Homo sapiens: one gene and its partners. The protein of the gene in region 5 purifies or fractionates together with the protein of the main gene of each other region. This does not show direct contact. Each region holds a gene or a part of one and is shown on either strand. Other genes may lie near its edges. The genes, in order: YTHDF2, NTPCR, GLUD1, ARL1, PTPN23 and PPP4R3B.

Evidence for each region.
Region 1: the proteins of PTPN23 (region 5) and YTHDF2 fractionate together in Homo sapiens (co-fractionation; one large-scale study listed by BioGRID). This does not show direct contact.
Region 2: the proteins of PTPN23 (region 5) and NTPCR purify together in Homo sapiens (affinity purification with mass spectrometry; one large-scale study listed by BioGRID and IntAct). This does not show direct contact.
Region 3: the proteins of PTPN23 (region 5) and GLUD1 purify together in Homo sapiens (affinity purification with mass spectrometry; one large-scale study listed by BioGRID and IntAct). This does not show direct contact.
Region 4: the proteins of PTPN23 (region 5) and ARL1 purify together in Homo sapiens (affinity purification with mass spectrometry; one large-scale study listed by BioGRID and IntAct). This does not show direct contact.
Region 6: the proteins of PTPN23 (region 5) and PPP4R3B fractionate together in Homo sapiens (co-fractionation; one large-scale study listed by BioGRID). This does not show direct contact.

The regions. Positions count from the first base shown.
Region 1 is NC_000001.11:28,760,940-28,764,439, reverse strand, and holds part of YTHDF2 (YTH domain-containing family protein 2), read right to left. Parts: intron 1-3,500. UniProt on the Homo sapiens protein: Specifically recognizes and binds N6-methyladenosine (m6A)-containing RNAs, and regulates their stability. M6A is a modification present at internal sites of mRNAs and some non-coding RNAs and plays a role in mRNA stability and processing.
Region 2 is NC_000001.11:232,981,611-232,984,382, reverse strand, and holds the end of NTPCR (cancer-related nucleoside-triphosphatase), read right to left. Parts: 3' UTR 501-2,772; downstream 1-500. Other genes in the region: PCNX2 (pecanex-like protein 2), read left to right, coding at 1-79. UniProt on the Homo sapiens protein: Has nucleotide phosphatase activity towards ATP, GTP, CTP, TTP and UTP. Hydrolyzes nucleoside diphosphates with lower efficiency.
Region 3 is NC_000010.11:87,060,344-87,063,843, reverse strand, and holds part of GLUD1 (glutamate dehydrogenase 1, mitochondrial isoform a precursor), read left to right. Parts: intron 1-1,008; coding exon 1,009-1,188; intron 1,189-2,791; coding exon 2,792-2,929; intron 2,930-3,018; coding exon 3,019-3,156; intron 3,157-3,500. UniProt on the Homo sapiens protein: Mitochondrial glutamate dehydrogenase that catalyzes the conversion of L-glutamate into alpha-ketoglutarate. Plays a key role in glutamine anaplerosis by producing alpha-ketoglutarate, an important intermediate in the tricarboxylic acid cycle.
Region 4 is NC_000012.12:101,401,273-101,404,772, forward strand, and holds part of ARL1 (ADP-ribosylation factor-like protein 1), read right to left. Parts: intron 1,675-3,500; coding exon 1,593-1,674; intron 1-1,592. UniProt on the Homo sapiens protein: GTP-binding protein that recruits several effectors, such as golgins, arfaptins and Arf-GEFs to the trans-Golgi network, and modulates their functions at the Golgi complex.
Region 5 is NC_000003.12:47,387,521-47,391,020, reverse strand, and holds part of PTPN23 (tyrosine-protein phosphatase non-receptor type 23), read right to left. Parts: intron 1-3,500. UniProt on the Homo sapiens protein: Plays a role in sorting of endocytic ubiquitinated cargos into multivesicular bodies (MVBs) via its interaction with the ESCRT-I complex (endosomal sorting complex required for transport I), and possibly also other ESCRT complexes.
Region 6 is NC_000002.12:55,611,123-55,614,622, forward strand, and holds part of PPP4R3B (serine/threonine-protein phosphatase 4 regulatory subunit 3B), read right to left. Parts: intron 1-3,500. UniProt on the Homo sapiens protein: Regulatory subunit of serine/threonine-protein phosphatase 4 (PP4). May regulate the activity of PPP4C at centrosomal microtubule organizing centers.

The DNA of each region.
Region 1 (3,500 bases), on a different chromosome or scaffold from region 5:
AATTAGCCGGGCGTGGTGGTGGGCGCCTGTAATCCCAGCCATTTGGGAGGCTGAGGCAGAGAACTGCTTAAATCCAGGAGGCAGGGGATGCAGTGAGCTGAGATCGCGCCACTGTACTCCAGCCTGGGTGACAGAGCAAAACTCCGTCTCAAAAAAATAAAAATAAAAATAAATAAAAATAAAAAATTGGGCCGGGCACAGTGGCTCATGCCTGTAATCCCAGCACTTTGGGAGGCCGAGGTGGGCGGATCACCTGAGGTCGGGAGTTCGAGACCAGCCTGACCAACATGGAGAAACCCCCGTCTCTTACTAAAAATACAAAATTAGCTGGGCGTGGTGGCACATGCCTGTAATCCCAGCTACTAGGAAGGCTGAGGCAGGAAAATCGCTTGAACCTGGGAGATGGAGGTTGCAGTGAGCCGAGATCACACCACTGCACTCCAGCCTTGGCAACAAGAGAGAAACCCCGTCTCAAAAAAAAATAAAATAAATAAATTTAAAAAATAATAATAATAATAAAGATATGAGCTGGCATGAGTTAAAGTATATATAATAGGAAAAAAAAAAACAAAAGTTGGTTCTTTGAAAAAATTAAGATTACTTTGTACCCCATAAATATATACAATTATAAATTGTCGGCCAGGCTCAGTGGCTCACGCCCATAATCCCAAAAAAAAAAAAAATTGGCTGGGCACAGTGGCTTACGCCTGTGATCCCAGCACTTTGGGAGGCTGAGGTGGGCGGATCACCAGGTCAGGAGATCGAGACCATCCTGGCTAACATGGTGAAACCCCATCTCTGCTAAAAATACAAAAAATTAGTTGGGCATGGTGGCACACACCTGTAGTCCCAGCTATTCAGGAGGCTAAGGCAGGAGAATCGCTTGAACCTGGGTGGTGGAGGTTGCACTGAGCTGAGATCGCACCACTGCACTCCAGCCTGAGCAACAGAGGGAGATTCCATCTCAATAAAAAATAAAAATTAAAAATAAATAAAAAACTAGCCAGCCCTGGTGTCAGGCACCTATAATCCCAGCTACTCAGGAGGCTGAGGCAGGAGAATTGTTTGAACCCAGGGGGCAGAGGTTGCAGCGAGCCAAGGTCACGCCACTTCACTCCAGCCTGGGCAAAAGAGCAAAACTCTGTCTCAAATAAAAACATTAAAGATATTAACTATGAATAAATTAGGAAACTACAAGTCCAGACAGATCTGGTCTGTGGCTTAAATAACTAGAAATAATGTCGACATCTCTATCCACCCATCCACCTTAGGCCCTCCTCACTTTAAATCTATGATTACAAAATAGAAAACTCGGCTGGGTGCAGTGGCTCATGCCTGTAATGCCAGCACTTTGGGAGGCCGAGGCAGGTGGATCACTTGAGGTCAGTAGCTCAAGACAGGGCTGGCCAACATTGTGAAACCCCATCTCTACTAAAAATACAAAAATTAGCCAAGCGTGGTGGCACATGCCTGTAGTCCCAGCTATTCAGGAGGCTGAGGCAGGAGAATCAATCACTTGAACCCGGGTGAGCCAAGATCGCGCCACTGCACTCCAGCCTAGCCAACAGAGCTAGATTCTGTCTCAAAAATAAAAATTAAAAATAAAATAAAATAAAATAGAAAATTCAGTCTCTGGAGGAAATATACAAAAAGCCATAAGGTGGCAATGTTAAAGTCTGCACATATGCAATCTCTTCATATAATATTCAAAAACAGTAAATCTGCCTATTTAGCTTCCCTCTATTTAAGCTTAATAACCTTTCTACTTACTACTGCACTGTTCTATCCCTCCCTCTCCCTTCACTTTCAAGTGGGCCATAAAACACAACTGAGGCATATTCATATTCACCTGGATATAATTTTATTAACATTAAAATCTGGTAAATGTTTATCTCTCCCACAAAATTAAATCTATATAGCTCTCAACTAGTTTTTCCTATGCCCCCATGAACCTTGAAAGAAACCCAAAGTTCAGCACCCCAGCTGACAATATAAAATGCTTAGACGGGAGTCATTCTTTGAGACGGAGTCTCATTCTAAAATTCTTTGAGACAGAGTCTCGCTCTGTTGCCCAGACTGGAGTGCCGTGGCACAATCTCCACTCACTGCAAGCTCCACCTCCCGGGTTCATGCCATTCTCCTGCCTCAGCCTCCCGAGTAGCTGGGACTACAGGTGCCCGCCACCATGCCCGGCTAATTTTTTGTATTTTTAGTAGAGACGGGGTTTCACCGTGTTAGCCAGGATGGTCTCGATCTCCTGACCTCGTGATCCGCCCGCCTCAGCCTCCCAAAGTGCTGGGATTACAAGCGTGAGCCACCACGCCCGGCTAGGAAAATGTGTTTTTAAAAGTGATGTGATGACACAAAAATTACTTCCATTGCTTGATATGGTTTAATAGAATCAACCTTTATAGTCTCCAATGCCGTGAATAAGTTAAATAAGTCTAATGACTTGACTTTAGACTTCAAGTCATATATATATGAAACATCAAGTCATATATAATTAAGATGCTAACTTCCCCCAGATAAAGAGACAAAGTATTTTTCATCAGTTCTCCAATTTAAAGCAAGGCTATAATATTTTATTAAAAATATCTATTTTGGCCATGGTACCTCCTGCCTACAAGCCCAGCACTTTGGGAGGCTGGGACCAGCAGTTTGAGACCAGCCTGGGCAACATACTGAGAACCTGACTCTACTAGAATTTGAGACAGAGTTTCGCTCTTGTTGCCTGGAATGCAATGGCGCAATCTCGGCTCACCGCAACCTCCACTTCCCGGGTTCAAGCGATTCTTCTGCCTCAGCCTCCTGAGTAGCTGGGATTACATGCGTGCGCCACCATGCCCAGCTAATTTTGTATTTTTAGTAGAGACGGGGTTTCTCCATGTTGGTCAGGATGGTCTCGAACTCCCAACCTCAGGTGATCCACCTGCCTTGGCCTCCGTTATGTGCTGGGATTACAGGCATGGGCCACCGCACCAGCCAGAAATTTTTAAACATTAGGCCAGGCATGGTGGCTCACACCTGGAATCCTAACAATTTGAGAGGCCAAAGGAGGAGGATCACTTAAGCCCAGGAATTCAAGAACAGCCTGGGCAACACAGTGAAACCTTATCTCTCCAAAAAGTTTTTTTAATTAGCCAGGCATAGTGGCGAACACCTGTGTGGTCCCAGCTACTTAGAAGGCTGCAAGAAAAAGTATGCTTAAGCCCAGGAGGTCAAAGCTGCAATGAGTTGTGATCAGGCCACTACACTCCAGCCTGGGTGACAAAGTGAGGCCTTCTCTCAAAAAAAAAAAAAAAAAAAAATACACACACACACACACACACACACTCATGCACGATATAATGACATTTCAGTCAATGACAGATCAGTAAGATTATAATGGAGCTGACAAATTCCTATCACCTAGCGATGTCGAAGCCACTGTAAGGATGTAGCACAAAACATTACTCACTTGTTTGTGGTAATGCGGTGTAAACAAACCTACCGCACTGCAA
Region 2 (2,772 bases), on a different chromosome or scaffold from region 5:
TGTCTGCAGGAGAGCAAGCCAGGAGGACATGGGCCTGGACGACACGGCCTCGCAGCAAAGTGTGTCAGACGAGCAGTGACGGGCGTGCGGCCGGGCGGGGAGGCTGGCTCCCCCACACCTCCCACCTGCATTGCTCTCCCTCGTGCTCCCCAAATCACCACAACCAACCAATACCGCGATCCATGAGGGACTCCTCCTGTGGAAAAGGAGAGCTGTTCCAGAACACAGAACTGATCTCAGGTTTTTGAAAAAAAAAAAAAAAAAAAAAAAAAAATCAAACAACAACAACAAAAAAACCTCACATGATGGGGAAACAAAAAAAAGCAACAAAGAAGCCACACCACACCTCCCTGGCCAGGCACAGCGCTGCCCAGAGCGGCACACCGCGGACAGCACCACACATGTTCCAGAATCTGAAATCTCAAAAGCCATTCACTAACTTAAAACAACTCAACAGAGCCATGAAACAAATGCCCTGATGAAAATAAGACAACTGCATGTTACATCATCGGCACTTTATACATTACTGTTACCATGAAAAAGAAATGAACAGCAGCACGTCTGATACCATCAGCTGGGCAGATGCATTAAGGTTAAATCTAAGTGTCAAGAAAACCCTATTTCTTTATAATATTTATGCAGCTGTTAAGCGTAACATGGTGGCAGCTTCACAACAAGAACCGTGATCATGCATGCAGTCATGTCTCCAGTATTCTGTGAAAAGCCAGGATACGTTAGGATGTGAGTTTAGAAACTGAGTCCATTCGGTGCATGGAAATCCACCGCGGAGTCACACAATGCTCCTCACTGTAGTCCAGGCGATTGGTGGGCCGCCAGCACCCTGCGGGCTTCACAGGGACGCGTGCTTGTTCTCCAAGCCCCGCAACCCTTACTGTGCACACAACATCGCACACACCTTTGTTTTTGAAATTAAAATGTTTATAGTTATTGCTGCGTCCAGTGTTTTGAGTTATACTGAAGCTTCTCATTTCTACAAGTATATCTTTTATGGTGAGAACGACATTTGGGTAAATTCTGAGACAACTTTTCCCATCTTCAAGACCCCAGGAACCTGTATCCTTGCTGGGGTAGAGGTCCCAAAATGCAGTCCATAGAGTATCACTGGCCTGGTGAACCATCCCTTTTCAAAAGACAATAGTTAGAAGGAAATACTCAATTTTAAACAGTCACACAAATTTCTTCAAAGTATTTAGGATTTGGAAATTTGAGGAGAGGGTTGGGGGAAGGGTATTGTAGAGAATCTCTTGCCCCTTGGAAAGTAAATGGTAATGCTTTTCTAATTTTTTTTTTTGTAAACTAAGAATCAGCAATTAATAAAAGCAAGTGTACTCTATAATCACAGACAGAAGGTTCTTATTTTCAGGTCAGCACTCCCTAGAGGTGCAAACTTTATTTAATTTAAATGCAGTTGTTTGTCTAATGGGAAGCTGATAGGGCCTTGCTGCAGTTCTCTAAGGTGGCCAAATTAAACTTGGCTGGCAGCTCCTGTAATCCTCTTGGGCAACTTTACAGCCAAGCCCCAAGGGCTAAATGGCAGGCCTGGAGCTGTGAGTGTGGCCTCCCCACGGAGGGTGACTCCTTGAGTTCAGTGAGGAAAACCACGGTGCCTGGCAGTGGTCAGCCAGGAGTATGACTGGCCACTCCTTAGGCATCCAGAAGTAGGAAACACAGAAAGCATTCCACAAAACGGGGAATCTCCCCAAAGAGCTAGAAACCCAGGCTGGAAGGAAATGGCAGCGCAGGCAAGAGAGCAAGAGCACCCTGGGTGCTCCTCCATCCCGTTTCTCTGGGGAGGTTCATGAGGTGCTTCTTCAACAGTTATTCTGTTCATTGCTTATCACAGTTCACGAGTTCTCGTGGCATCTTTTGTGGGGAGGAGGGAGGATGAAAGTGACACAGTGTATCTACAACACTAAGGTCACATTAATCAGATAGGAATGCAGTGACGCTCTGCACCGTCTATGAGAGCGGGCATCTCGAGTGTGCATACCGAGGCACAGATGTGCACACACATCCGCAGGCAACTGCACCCACAGAGAAAAGGTGGCAGTATTGGAGTCACCCCAGGATTCTTGGGGGCTGTTTGACCAGCCATCAACAGTGCAGCCATACTTCTTTTTCTTTTTTATCGTGGTACACAACTTTTATATTTACAACTCATGAACTTGTTAATCTGGTCCTTCATCTAGTCAGCTATGTATCAGAAAGGACTTCCTGCAAAATGTTATATTCTAAGCCCCCATTTAGAGGAGGCATCCCTAAACTGACATTTCTTGCTAGAGTTGTTCAAATATTCTGCCAGTATATAGCTAAAGAGTTATTTTCCAGTTCAAGAGTTATTTGGGGGCTGGGCACGGTGGCTCACGCCTGTAATCCCAGCACTTTTGTAGGCTGAGGCAGGCAAATCATGAGGTCAGGAGTTCGAGACCAGCTTGGCCAACATGGTGAAACCCCGTCTCTACTAAAAATACAAAAAATTAGCTGGGCGTGGTGGCGGGTGCCTGTAATCCCAGCTACTCAGGAGGTTGAGGCAGGAGAATCGCTTGAACCCAGGAGGCGGAGGTTACAGTGAGCCGAGATAGCACCACTGCACTCCAGCTCAAGCGACAGAGTGAGACTCTGTCTCAAAAAAAAAAAAAAAAAAAAGAGTTATTTGGACACAGATCAAAATGGTTTCTCCTCTAAAGATAATATTAAAACCATAGCACTTGGTTTTATATAAATCATGTGGCCAATTTGGCATTATTGATT
Region 3 (3,500 bases), on a different chromosome or scaffold from region 5:
AACCCCCATCTCCACTTTGCAGAGCTAACCACTGCTACCAAAGATACTCTGCTCACACAGAAGCACAGGACTCTTACCCACACATACCTTTTTAAAAATACTTCATTAAATACTTTCGTTACTCTACTCTTAGATGAACTTGAATGTCATGTTATATTAAGTATCAAGTTATATTAAAAACTTCCTTTTTCAAAAGTGGCAGAATACAACATTGAGTCTTCCCATCCAAGACAATTGTAAAGCCTCTTCCTGTCTCAGGCTCTGTTTTGGTGACATGCTCAAGTCTTATAGTAGATTTTAAGACACTCATGAATGGGATGTGTATGTACCTTGATTTAGTAGTGCTTAAATACTTGTTGAAGGAATGATAGCTTTAGGCTGAGCTAGCTCTACTTTTGTGATGTTATTTGTACTTACTTGATGTTCAATCCCTACACTCTTGTTTTTTCTGTCAGAAAATATGGTCTACTTTGCCGGGCGTGGTGGCTCACGCTTGTAATTCTAGCACTTTGGGAGGCCAAGGCAGGGAGATCACTTGAGGTCAGGAGTTTGAGACCAGCCTGACCAACATGGAGAAACCCCATCTCTACTAAAAACACAAAATTAGCCGGGCGTGGTGGCACGTGCCTGGAATACCAGCTACTCAGGAGGCTGAGGCAGGAGAATCGCTTGAACCTGGGAGGTGGAGGTTGCGATGAGCCAAGATCTCACCATTGCACTCCAGCCTGAGCAACAAGAGTGAAACTCCGTCTCAAAAACAAACAAACAAACAAACAAAAAAAAAAACAGAAAATATAGTATATTTTATTGTATTTTCTAGGAACAGAAAGCTGAAAAAGTGAGTCTTGTCTCTATTGGTAAAAGTATACCTTAAATACATTCATACACACACTCCTAATTAGCATATTTTTGATTAAATGAGAATGTGCTTTGACTTTAATTCATTATGTTCCTTCAACAGAGAAATTGGACTTGACATTTCATTCTTTCAATTACCCCCTCTTACAGGATATTAATGCACACGCCTGTGTTACTGGTAAACCCATCAGCCAAGGGGGAATCCATGGACGCATCTCTGCTACTGGCCGTGGTGTCTTCCATGGGATTGAAAATTTCATCAATGAAGCTTCTTACATGAGCATTTTAGGAATGACACCAGGGTTTGGAGATAAAACATTTGTTGTTCAGGTAAAAACAAAAACAAAAAAAGTTTCCTTAATAACTGATAGACATTAAGTAAAGTTTTCAATGTTTTTAGAATTGTAATTTTAAAATTAAGTTATCTCAAATCTCTTAAATTTTAGAGTGGTGGTTTTCAGAGTAATAGATATTTTGTTTTTTGAACCTTGGTATGATTCATGTAACTAGAACTGATTTAAGTATCTCTCAAGTACATGTGAAACTGTTACCAACTTCAACCAAACTATCACCAAATTCAACCAAAATATTGGTTAGTATTCAAACTTGAAATTATAGCTAGAAGGGCAAGTCTCTTAACATAATTTTCTAAGTTTTGTAAGTATATAGAAAGGTTTACACACTGACCCAAATTTGTTTCATGTGTTAACATGTATTTTACTTAGGAGAATCTTAATTAAGTTGAAATTACTTGAAAATAGAAGTGGTGGCTGGACACAGTGGCTCATGCCTGTATTCCCAGCACTTTGGGAGGCCAAGACGGGTGGATCACTTGAGGCCAGGAGTTCGAGACCAGCCTGGCCAACATGGTGAAACCCTGTCTCTACTAAAAGTAGAAAAATTAAGCCGGGCGTGGTGGCTCACGCCTGTAATCCCATCACTTTGGGAGGCCAAGGTGGGCAGATCACGAGGTCAAGAGATCAAGACCATCCTGGCCAACATGGTGAAACCCGGTCTCCGCTAAAAATAGGAAAATTAGCAGGGTGTGGTGGTACACGCCTGTAGTCCCAGCTACTCTGGAGGCTGACGCAGGAGAATCACTTGAACCCGGGAGGTGGAGCTTGCAGTGAGCCGAGATTGCGCCACTGCACTCCAGCCTGGGTGACAGAGCCAGACTCTGTCTCAAAAAAAAAGAAAGAAAAATTAGCTGGGCATGATGGCGGCACCTGTAATCCCAACTACTCAGGAGACTAAGGCAGGAGACTCACTTGAACCCGGGAGGCAGAGGCTGCAGTGAGCCAAGATTGTGCCATTGCACTCCAGCCTGTGTGAGAGAATGAGACTCGGTCTCAAAAAAAAAAAAAAATTGTATTTCTCCAAATTAGTGACATCCCTTTTCACAACATAGGACATCTGATCATCAAGGACTGAGGACCTGGTGGTGTACTTAACACCACTGCCATTTATTGATTGATTGAGATGGAGTCTCACCCTATTGCCCAGGCTGGAGTGCAGTCTCGGCTCACTGCAACCTCCACCTCCCAGGTTCAAGTGATTCTCCTACCTCATTCTCCCAAGTAGCTGGGATTACAGGCACGGACCCCATGCCTAATTTTTGTATTTTTAGTAGAGACGGGGTTTCACCATGTTGGCCATGGCTGATCTCGAACTCCTGACCTCAAGTGATCCACCTGCCTCAGCCTCCCAAAGTGCTGGAATTACAAGCGTGAGCCACCATGCCCGCTCATCACATTCTTAAACAGAGAATTTTATTGTTGAAGAGAAACCAGTTAGTACATTGTTTCTTTTGGCAAAAGAATTTTGAGAATTGCTTCTAAATAAACAGAGTATGGATTTACATTGGTCAAAATATGACTCTTGCTGTCTATACCAGGACTTTAATTTTTGTGTTATGGGTAATTGTTCTTCACAGGGATTTGGTAATGTGGGCCTACACTCTATGAGATATTTACATCGTTTTGGTGCTAAATGTATTGCTGTTGGTGAGTCTGATGGGAGTATATGGAATCCAGATGGTATTGACCCAAAGGAACTGGAAGACTTCAAATTGGTATTAATACATTTTTATAGCATAGACACTAAATATAAATATTTAAAACTCTGGTGCAGCTATTAATTGTGATTTTCAATCAATGGCAGCAACATGGGTCCATTCTGGGCTTCCCCAAGGCAAAGCCCTATGAAGGAAGCATCTTGGAGGCCGACTGTGACATACTGATCCCAGCTGCCAGTGAGAAGCAGTTGACCAAATCCAACGCACCCAGAGTCAAAGCCAAGGTGACAACATTATAGAAACCAGAACCAACATTATCAATGTGAATGACGTTAGGGGGGTCATAGAAGAGTCTGATTGAGTTTTCTCTTTCTTTTTAGCAGCTTTATTGGCACATACTGCACATACCATACAGTTCCCCCATTTAAGGTACATAATTTAATGGCTTTTAGCTACCGGCACAGAGTTGTGCAACCATTACCAAAACAAACGCATCTGCCTGACACTCCTGTAAAAAAAAAAAACAAGCAAACAAAAAAAAAACCTAGATAAATAGAAAAGTGAAAGGTAGTTTTATACACTTGGCAGAGAAAAATAACCTCTATTTAACTTTAACTGAAACTGTGCT
Region 4 (3,500 bases), on a different chromosome or scaffold from region 5:
CCTTAATGATTCACTGTTTCTGGTGGATATATGTACCATATCCCTCAGATGTGATGGAGTCAAAAGAATGTTGATAAACATTGGCTGGGCACGGTGGCTCACATCTGTAATCCCAGCATTTTAGGAGGCTGAGGAGGGCAGATCAACTGAGGTCGGGAGTTCGAGACCAGCCTGACCAACATGGAGAAACCCCATCTCTACTAAAAATACAAAATTAGCTGGACATGGTGGCAGGTGCCTGTAATCCCAGCTACTCGGGAGGCTGAGGCAGGAAAATCACTTCAACCAGGAAGGCAGAGGTTCCAGTGAGCTGAGATGGTGCCATTGCACTCCAGCCTGGGCAACAAGAGTGAAACTCTGTCTCAAAAAAAAAAAAAAAAAAAAAAAAAAGAATGTTGATAAACATTGACTCACAGGACCAGGGAGTTTCCAAATGAATTCATTCAGACTTCAGGCTGACAAAATTTATTTATAATCTATGAAATCACTAAATATACTGATAGAAAAGTTGTACACAGACCTGATCATTACATCTTCTTAAACAAATCTTTAACTAGGCACCCCTTAAGAGGAATAAACTTTTTAAACGTGATTTTATTTAACAGTCATGAAATTAATCACTGACATCAAGCAGTAGAAATGGCTAAAATTATAAATAAACTCAAAAGTGATTCAATGGAGTCTCTCTGAGCCTACTCTGGCTTGGGAGGCTGCACAATTTAAAAAAAAAGAAACGTGATTCAAGAAATGAGTTAAAAGAAGTCAGAATGTTTGGAGAATGCATTACTAATCTTTTAAGATGGTACTATCGTGACCAACTACTGACGGTCATCAAACATTCACTGTTGCCATGTCAAGCCCAAAATGCTAAGCAGAAGACCTGAACTTCAGAAGGCATTTATTTTTTATTTATTCATTTATTTTTTTTGAGACAGAGTCTTGCTCTGTAGCCCAGGCTGGAGTGCAGTTGCGCGATCTCAGCTCACTGCAACCTCCAGCTCCCAAGTCCTGGTACAAGCAATTCTCCTGCCTCAGCCTCCCAGGTAGCTGGAATTATAGGCACGCACCACCATGCCCAGCTAATTTTTGTATTTTTAGTAGAGACGAGGTTTCACCATGTTGGTCAGGCTGGTCTCCAACTCCTGACCTGATGATCCGCCCACCTCGGCCTCCCAAAGTGCTGGGATTACAGGCGTGAGCTACCATGCCCGGCCAATGGCATTTATTTTTATATTAGCCCTAAATGGTATGCCTGCAAGGTACTTTAATGAATTCCAAAACAATGTGTTTCAGAGAGGAGAGACTGACAAGAACTAAATGGAGGGTCCTTTCTAATTGAGAATAGCTGAAGTAATAAGGTCTTGAGATTTTCGTGAAAAGATTTTCATTAAACAGGTATCTGGAAAACTGGGCTTCCTTAAGTTTTAACTCAATGGATGCTCTAAGGAAATAGTTCCCAATTTTACCTCATTTTAAACTAGGTGGCTCCATTTAAATTACAATAGAACACATATTCGGGTTTACTGATTTTAACCCTTAAAAGAATCAATAAATGTCAAATACTACCAAATAACCTGGTCTTTGTACCATACCTGATACTTGTCTGTCCTCCTAAATCCCAGACTTGGAATTTAAGGTTTTTGTACGTCACCGTCTCTACATTAAATCCAATGGCTGGAAGAGAAATCAAATCAGTGGTATGTGTAGACTAATACATTCCACCTTCAAAATATCCTATCTAATTGAGTTACAGCAATTAATGGTAACTGTTATTAGAGTTTAAAATATATATATATATAATTTGTCTTAGGATTCGAGTTAAAAAGAAATGGTAATTGTTGAATCACATTATTGGTTGAGATTTTATACCATTTAAGACGAAATAGTATGCTCTGCTCCCCCACACATGTGCAGGTGTGTGCACAAAACATCAATTAGCAAGATCAATACCATCTTCAGGATATTTTTTAAAAGCCAGCAGTTCTGCAAATAAAGTATATAATTTTAGCTCAAATAAATTAAAAAAAGAATTTAAAAAAGAAATAAAAAGGAAAACATAATTTTTAGCTCAATGGAAATCCTATTATATTAAACTCCCCTCATAATAGAGTAGTTAAAAGTGTTCGAAAGCTGTATTTAGAAAGTACAGTTGTGGATGTACTATAAAAAGCAGAATTTTGGCTGGCAGCAAATAAACAGACCAAAAGAAAAAAAGCTAAACTTCAGTTCTAAACTACAGCATGGACACAGCCATGGCTGCAGCTTTCAATCTCACAGCCCATCTGCAGACATCCTCCAGAACTCACTTGTAATAAGGTCATGGCTGGGTGGTCAAAGGGCAGGTGTCCCATCCCTTTTCTCTGCCATCCTTCTTAGGTGAAAAATAGGTAAAAAATAACTTCCATGGCTGGGTGCGGTGGCTCACACCTGTAATCCCAGCACTTTGGGAGGCCAAGGCGGGTGGATCACCTGAGGTCAGGAGTTCGAGACCAGCCTAGCCAACACTGTGAAACCCCATCTCTTCTAAAAATACAAAAATTAGCCGGGTGTGGTGGCACATGCCTGTAATCCCAGCCACTCTGGAGGCTGATGCATGAGAATCGCTTGAACCTGGGAGGCACAGGTTGCAGTGAGCCGAGATCTTGCCACTGCACTTCAGCCTGGGCAATAGAGTGAGACTCTGTCTCAAAAAAATAAATAAATAAAAAATAACTTCCAGGTATAACTGGACAATTAGCTTTTGTTTTATATTTAAGTCTGCAGTGGTAAGTGATACCTTTGAGTATTTGGCAAGTATGTCTATTACAATTAAAAAATAACAATACTATGACAAATTTGAGCAAAAAACTAAAATGCAAGTTCATGATGTCTCCCTTAGAATTAGGTAGGAGTGTAATCACAATGTTCACCAACAGTAAAAAACATCGTTTATATGTGCAAGACAAGAGAATGGTGTAGACTGGGTGCAGTGGCTCATGCCTGTAATCCCAACACTTTGGGAGGCTGAGGTGGGAAGATCGCTTGAGCCCAGGAGGTAGAGGTAGAGGTAGACGCTGCAGTGAGCTATGAATGTGCCACTGCACTCCAGCCTGGGCAAAAAAGCAAGACACTGTCTCAACAAAGAGTGTGGTGTAAAGCAGCACTCACTGAAACTCCAAACTATCCACTGTGCTGCTCTGTGCACTGCAGGAGATGCCCAGACAGAGATGGGTGATTTTGAGAAGCAAAAACTAAGGGCACTAAAATTTACTGAAGGTAGCAAAAAGGAATAACAGACATTACAGGGTTCAAAACGCTCTTCTTTCTTAGAGGCTAGCCTCTTTCGTTTTAGTCCATAAATTTAAACAGTAACAATATAGAAATACCCTGAGTGACAGACTAACATTAGAGGCATAATTTAAAAAATCTTGAGCAAACTGTATGAACTCTTTAATTTAAATGTACTACTCTTCTCTAAGTAAATTCAAGGCAACAAATGAAAAAAGTATAAATAACAACAG
Region 5 (3,500 bases):
CTTCTGCCTCAGACTCCCAAAGTGTTGGGATTACAGACATGAGCCATCACGCCCAAACTTTTTTTTATTTTATAGAGATGGGAGTCTCACTATGTTGCCCAGTCTGGTCTTAAACTCCTGGGCTCAAGCAGTTGACCCACATCAGCCTCCCAGAGCATTTCTATTTTTTAAAAATATGGTTCTTACAAACAACTCTGAAAAACAGGCACAGAAAATGAATCCCTGGCCACACAGTGAGTCAGTGGAGCAGCCAGGATATTTATGTTATTATTATTATTTGCAGCCTGTTAGAAGCAAAAGGATGTTTTTAAAACCCTAACAAAATCCTCTGTGACTGCTGATCACTCCTCCACTAAAAAAGAAGAAAGAGGCTGGGTGAAGTTCCTGGAGTAAGGGACAGAGACCTTGTCCCCATTTCGCTATGGTCTGGGACTCTGCAGAACTCGGAACAGTCTAGCGGGAAGTATGAAGCTCCAATGGAGGCTGAGAAGGCAGGCCCAGCAGCAGACGAGGAGAAAGAACCAGAGGCCCTGACAGGACCCCAGTACCTACACAACTAACAGGAAGAAGACCAGAGAACCTCCAAAAACAGCCAGGCTTTGAAGTAGCTGGGGATCCTTTTCTGAAGGAATAAAAGAAGACCCGTGGAGAGCTCTCAGTGAGGGCACGTCCAGGGATCACAGCCACCGAGGGGAAAAAGAAAAGAAAGGAGTTACCAGATTACAAGTGGGAAACAGTGCCCCTGAGTTGCTGTGAAATCTGGGCTTGGTTTTTGTTTTTTGTTTTTTTAAATTGTCTTGCTCTGTCAGGCAGGCTGGAGTGCAGTGGTACTATCATAGCTCAATGAAGCTTCAAACTCCAAGTGATCCTCCCACCTCAGCCTCTTGTGTGGCTAGGACTACAGCTGTGTGCCACCATGCCCAGCTATTTTTTTTTTTTTTTTTTTTTGAGACGGAGTCTCGCTCTGTTACCCAGGCTGGAGTGCAATGGCGCCATCTCGGCTTACTGCAACCTCCACCTCCTGGGTTCAAGCAATTCTCCTGCCTAAGCCTCCCAAGTAGCTGGGACTACAGGTGCATGCAGCCATACCCAGCTAATTTTTGTATTTTTAGTAGAGATGGGGTTTTGCCATGTTGGCTAGGCTGATCTCGAACTCCTTTTTTTTTTTTTTTTTTTTTTTGAGACGGAGTCTCGCTCTGTTACCCAGGCTGGAGTGCAGTGGTGCCATCTCAGCTCACTGCAAGCTCCACCCCCCCGGGTTCACGCCATTCTCCTGCCTCAGCCTCCTGAGCAGCTGGGACTACAGGCACCCGCCACCACGCCTGGCTAATTGTTTGTATTTTTAGTGGAGACGGGGATTCACCGTGTTAGCCAGGATGGTCTTGATCTCCTGATCTCGTGATCCACCCGCCTCGGCCTCCCAAAGTGCGGGGATTACAGGCGTGAGCCACTGCGCCAGGCCCTGGTCCCGAACCCTTGACTTCGTGATCCACCCGCCTTGGCCTCCCAAAGTGCTGGGATTACAGGCGTGAGCTACCATGCCTGGCCCCAGCTAATTTTTATTTTTATTTTGTAGAGACAGGGGTCTTGCTATGGTGCCCAGGCTGGTCTCGAACTCCTGGCCTCCAGCTATCCTCCCACCTCGGCATCCCAAAGCGCTGGGATTACAGGCATGAGTCACCATGCCCAGCCTAGGCTTGGCTTTTTTCATGTGTAAAATGGGGTTAATATCACTTGCTACGTCTAGCTCAGAGCTGTCATAAGGATTCGAGTTATTTCCCAAACAGGGAAGGAAGATGCTCAGGTGAAAATATTGTTTACAATAGGCCAAGACCTGTACTAAGAACTTAACAAGCATTAGAACGACAAACTCTGCATGTTCTCACTTTTTTGTGGGAGCTAAAAATTAAAACCACTGAATTCATGGAAACCGACAGTAGAATGATGAATACCAGAGGCTGGGAAGGGTAGTGGGAGTGGGGTGGGGGAGTGGAGTGGGAATGGTTAATGAGTACAAAAATATAGTTAGATAGAATGAATACAATCTAGTATTTGAGGCTGGGCGTGGTGGCTCACACCTGCAATCGCAGCACTTTGGGAGGCCAAGGCGGGTGGATCATCTGAGGTCAGGAGTTCGAGACCACCCTGTCCAACATGGCAAAACCCAGACTCTACTAAAAAGACAAAAATTAGCTGGACATGATGGCAGGTGCCTGTAATCCCAGCTACTCGGGAGGCTGAGGCAGTAGAAACGCTTGAACACGGGAGGCGGAGGTTGTGGTGAGCCGAGATTGTGCCACTGTACTCTAGCCTGCGTGACAAGGCGAAACTCTGTCTCAAAAAAAAAAAAAAAAAAGATCTAGTAGTGACAGCAAAACAGGGTAACTATAGTCAGCAATAATTTATTACATTTAAAAATAAAAGTATAATTGGATTGTCTGTAACACAAAGAAAGGATAAATGCTTGTGGTAATGGATACTCCATTTACCCTGATGTGATTACTATACCTGTTTGGCCATATCAAGTACCCCATTAATTTTTGTGGGTACATAGTAGGTGTATATACTTATATACCTACTTAAGCCCAGGTGTTTGAGACCAGCCTGCGCAACACAGTGAGACCTTATCTCTAAAAAAAAATAAGCAAAATTAGCAGAGTGGTGCGTGCCTGTGGTCCCAGCTATTCAGGAGGATGAGGTGGACGGACCACTTGAGACCTGGAGGCAGAGGCTGCAGTGTGCCAAGATCGTGCCTTTGCACTCCAGCCTGGGTGTTACAGCAAGACCCCATCTCTAAAAAAATAAAAATAAAAAAGAACTTAGAAGCATTAATTTTGATTCTCAGAAGCTTATGAGGTATATTATTAGTTCCATGTTTCAGGTAAGAAAAGTGAGGACTACATTAGTTATGTAATCTTTGTGACAGCTCAAGATCATTCAGCTATTAAAGGAATGAGAGGGGACCTAAACCAAGGTCTGATTCCAATAGCTATGCTATTTCCATGATGCTACTCTGCTATTTTACTGAGCACCAAACAGTAGAGAATTTTGTAGCTAGGTGAGATCACTGGAAACAACCATCCTGGTCCTGCCATGATTTTGCAGATTAGAGAAAGGGCAAACCACAGATAAGCAATGATAGTGCTAGGACCCCAAGACAGATTTCCTGACTCCAGACCTAATATTAATCCCTCTGTGTCACCTTCTCTTGTACTAGTATGTTCTCATTCTTCTATGTATGCTTTGCTCTTAATTTAACATTTGGAATTTCATCATGCTAATTAAAGCAATAAGACAAGAAGAAAAGGCAATTAAAAGGCATCACATGTGTTAGTTTTACCTTTATTCACCAGTTACATTATGTTTCTTTTTTCTCCAGTTCCAGAGTTGACTCAAATGTAGGGCATTCCTTGGGCTACTCTAAGAAACAAACTTTTTTTTTTTTTTTTTGAGACAGGGTCTCTGACACCCAGGCTGGAGTGGCGAGATCTTGGTTCACC
Region 6 (3,500 bases), on a different chromosome or scaffold from region 5:
AAGTGTTGAGATTACAAGTGTGAGCCACTGTGCCTAGTATGACTCTTGTTTTTTATTAAGATATGTTGCCCAGGCTGGGGTGCAATGGCTACGCACAGGCACAATCATAGCACCCTACAGCCTCAAACTCCTGGCCTTAAGTGATCCTCCAGCCTCAGCCTCCCAAGGAGCTGGGACCACAAGCACACGCCACCACACCTGGCTTTGACTCTGCTTTTGATTTAGTCAGTATCAGTGGGACTGATTTGAAGTAACTTAAAATTTCTGTCACACCTATCAGGTATGTTATTTCATGTTGTATCATATAATGATTCTCTTCTCTTTCCAACATGTTTAAATGCTTAAGTTTATTGGGTAAGTACATCTTCTTCCATTAACGACTTCAGTACTATGCACAGTAAGGAAGAAAGTGATGTGAATCAATAATGACTTTTCAATATCCAGTCATATGACATTCAGCTTGACTCATTCTAACTCCTTTTAGGCTCACAATTTGGTACTTCATTTATGAAAGAAAAGATGTATCTTGAGCACACAATTTAGTAGTTGGCTCATTTTAAAACTATAATGTTAAAAGAAGAATGTTAAACATTCCCCTCTGAATTTACTCAATTTTTTTTTTTGAGACAGAAAAATCGCTTTGTCTCTCCACCTGGAGTGCAGTGGTACAATCATGGCTTACTACAGTCTCGACCTCCGAAGCTCAAATGATCCTCCCGTCTCACCTCCAGAAGTAGCTGGCACTATAGCTGCGCACCACCACACCTGGATAATTTTTGAATTTTTTTTGGTAGAGACAGGGATCTTGCTATGTTGTGCAGGCTGTTCCCGAAATCCTCAGCTCAAGGGATCCTCCTGCCTTGGCCTTCCAAAGTGCTGAGATTGCAGGTGTGAGCCACCATGCCTGCCATAGTCAACATATTTTAATACAGCAAAATGGCCTATAAACATCTCATTCACTTACTCATTAAGTTTTTAATAAAAAACCCGCTAATGGAAACAAAAAATTTAACCCATTACTGCAGTCCCAGCTACTGGAGAAGCTGAGATGGGAGGATCACTTGAGCCTAGGAGTTCAAGCTCAGCCTGGGCATCATAGCAAGATCCCATCTCTGAAAACAATTTTTTAAATTTTAACTCCACTACTGAACAACAGACTTCATGTGATATTTGGAAATTAATAACTTTCTAGACTAATTTATTGAATAACCTAAATGATGCCTTTTACAAAGGATAATTCTAACAAACATAGAAAAATGTTACTGTATTTGGAAATCTCAATTTGTGTAACTTCAAATAACTACAAATTAAGCTGAATACAGCCACTGCTCACACCTGTAATCCCAGCACCATGGAGGTGCTGAAGCAAAAGGATCACTTGAGGCCAGGAATTCAAATCAGCCTGGGCCACACAGTGAGACCGTCTCTACAAACACAACAACAACAAAGTTTTGTAATAAATTTTTTAAAGGTGCAAATTTAGCCTGGACAACATAACGAGACCCCATCTTTACAAATTTTTTAAAAAATTAGTAAGGTTGGCCGGGCTTGGTGGCTCACACCTGTAATCCCAGCACTTTGGGGGGCCGAGGCGGGCGGATCACGAGGTCAGGAGATCGAGACCATTCTGGCTAACACGGTGAAACCCCATCTCTACTAAAAAATACAAAAAAATTAACTGGGCGTGGTGGCGGGCGCCTGTAGTCCCAACTACTTGGGAGGCTGAGGCAGGAGAATGGTGTGAACCCGGGAGGCGAAGCTTGCAGTGAGCAGAAATCGCACCACCACACTGCAGCATGGACGACAGAGCGAGACTCCATCTCAAAAAAAAAAAAAAAATTAGTCAAGCATGGTGGCTCACATCCATAATCCCATCTACTCAGAAGGCTGAAATTGGAGGATCGCTTGAGCCCAGGAGGTTGAGGCTGCAGTGAGCTGTGATCAAACCACTGTACTCCAGCCTAAGGGACAGAAGAAGACCCTCTCAAAAAAATTATTTTCAAAAGTGCAAATTGAAGATTTGGGTGAAAATATGAAAAACCATGTCTATTACAAAGAAACTAAGTTTAACATAACCCCTAAATGGCCCTATGATTTCAATTAGAAAAGTGTACTCAATTTAAACAAAAATAAACAGGTAACATCATTCACACAAGTTTTTCACTCTTCTTCAGTGTTTCCATATTCTTCTCATTACCAGAGTTCTCTTATACACCTGAATGTTATGTTGCCAAAAAAAAAAAGCCCAACGAAAAAATAAACTATTACAAAACCCCAAATAGTATATTATTTAAATGTGATTACAGAAAACATTTCCAAATGGTGTAATTTTTTTAAATAATGCATTTTTTCCAATACTTTATACTAAGTGTATACAAAAATGCTAATTATCTAGAACTAATTTTCTAGTAGAGCAACATTATACATGAAATTACCTACATATCCTAATGATTCTAAAGTATTCACAGAATCACTATGTATTTTTAACTTATGTTGGGTGACTATTTTAAATACAAACCTACTCCATAATGTGATGTTTCCAAAGTAACAACAGCTAAAAGATCTTATATACAATCTGAGAAGAATCCATTATTAAACCTAAATTTGTAGGGAACTGTTTATGACTTAGTTACATTTAAGAACAAAGTTCCTGATAATTATATTCATGCAGATAAGGGAAATATGGTAAAAAAAAAAAAAAAATTAGTATTTCTTTCCCCACAAAGAAGCAAGCAAACAAAAACAAACTAAAAGTGATCATCTGGTAAAAACTCGGTATAAAGACAGAGATTAAGAGCTGCCTGGCTGACTGAGAAATTAAATTTACTTAAATGTCTACCTTACAATGTCTAAGGTATAGGAAACATCTTCAGGTTTTCAATTCAGGACAAATGTTTAATTTGCTTCTCCATCAAAAAAGACACACAATATTTTCTAAACAGAGAAAAAAGCTATGAATTGAATATTGAAAATTTTAAAGTATTTCAAATAACTGATTAAGAATGTGTTATATACATAATTGTTCTAACAGTAAGACTTTGTAATAATAAGCTGCACAACAGACAGAATTTTATTCCTCCAACTACGAAGTACTTGTTTCTGGGCATCCAAATTTTCATAAACCTTGAAGTGGGCACTGACGCTGTAAATGTAATCCTAAAATAATTTATCTTCCTTCAAAAATCTCTGCCATCGTGACTTTACATACCACACACAAAAAAGAATACCTGGAAATAATTCAAATGTATAACAACAAGTGTATGTCATACATAAGAATACTATACAGAGTTTAAAAAGAAAACTAGATCTACATTGTTAACATGAACGAATATTCAAAATGAATGTGTGAAAAATGCAAGCTGCAGAATACATGTAAGAGTATGACATCCACTGTGTAAAGTTTAAAAACACACAACAGACTACATATTATTTATGGATACATACATATGCAGAAAAGGTATAAAAGCATGTACACAAAGAATACACATCAACTTCAGAAT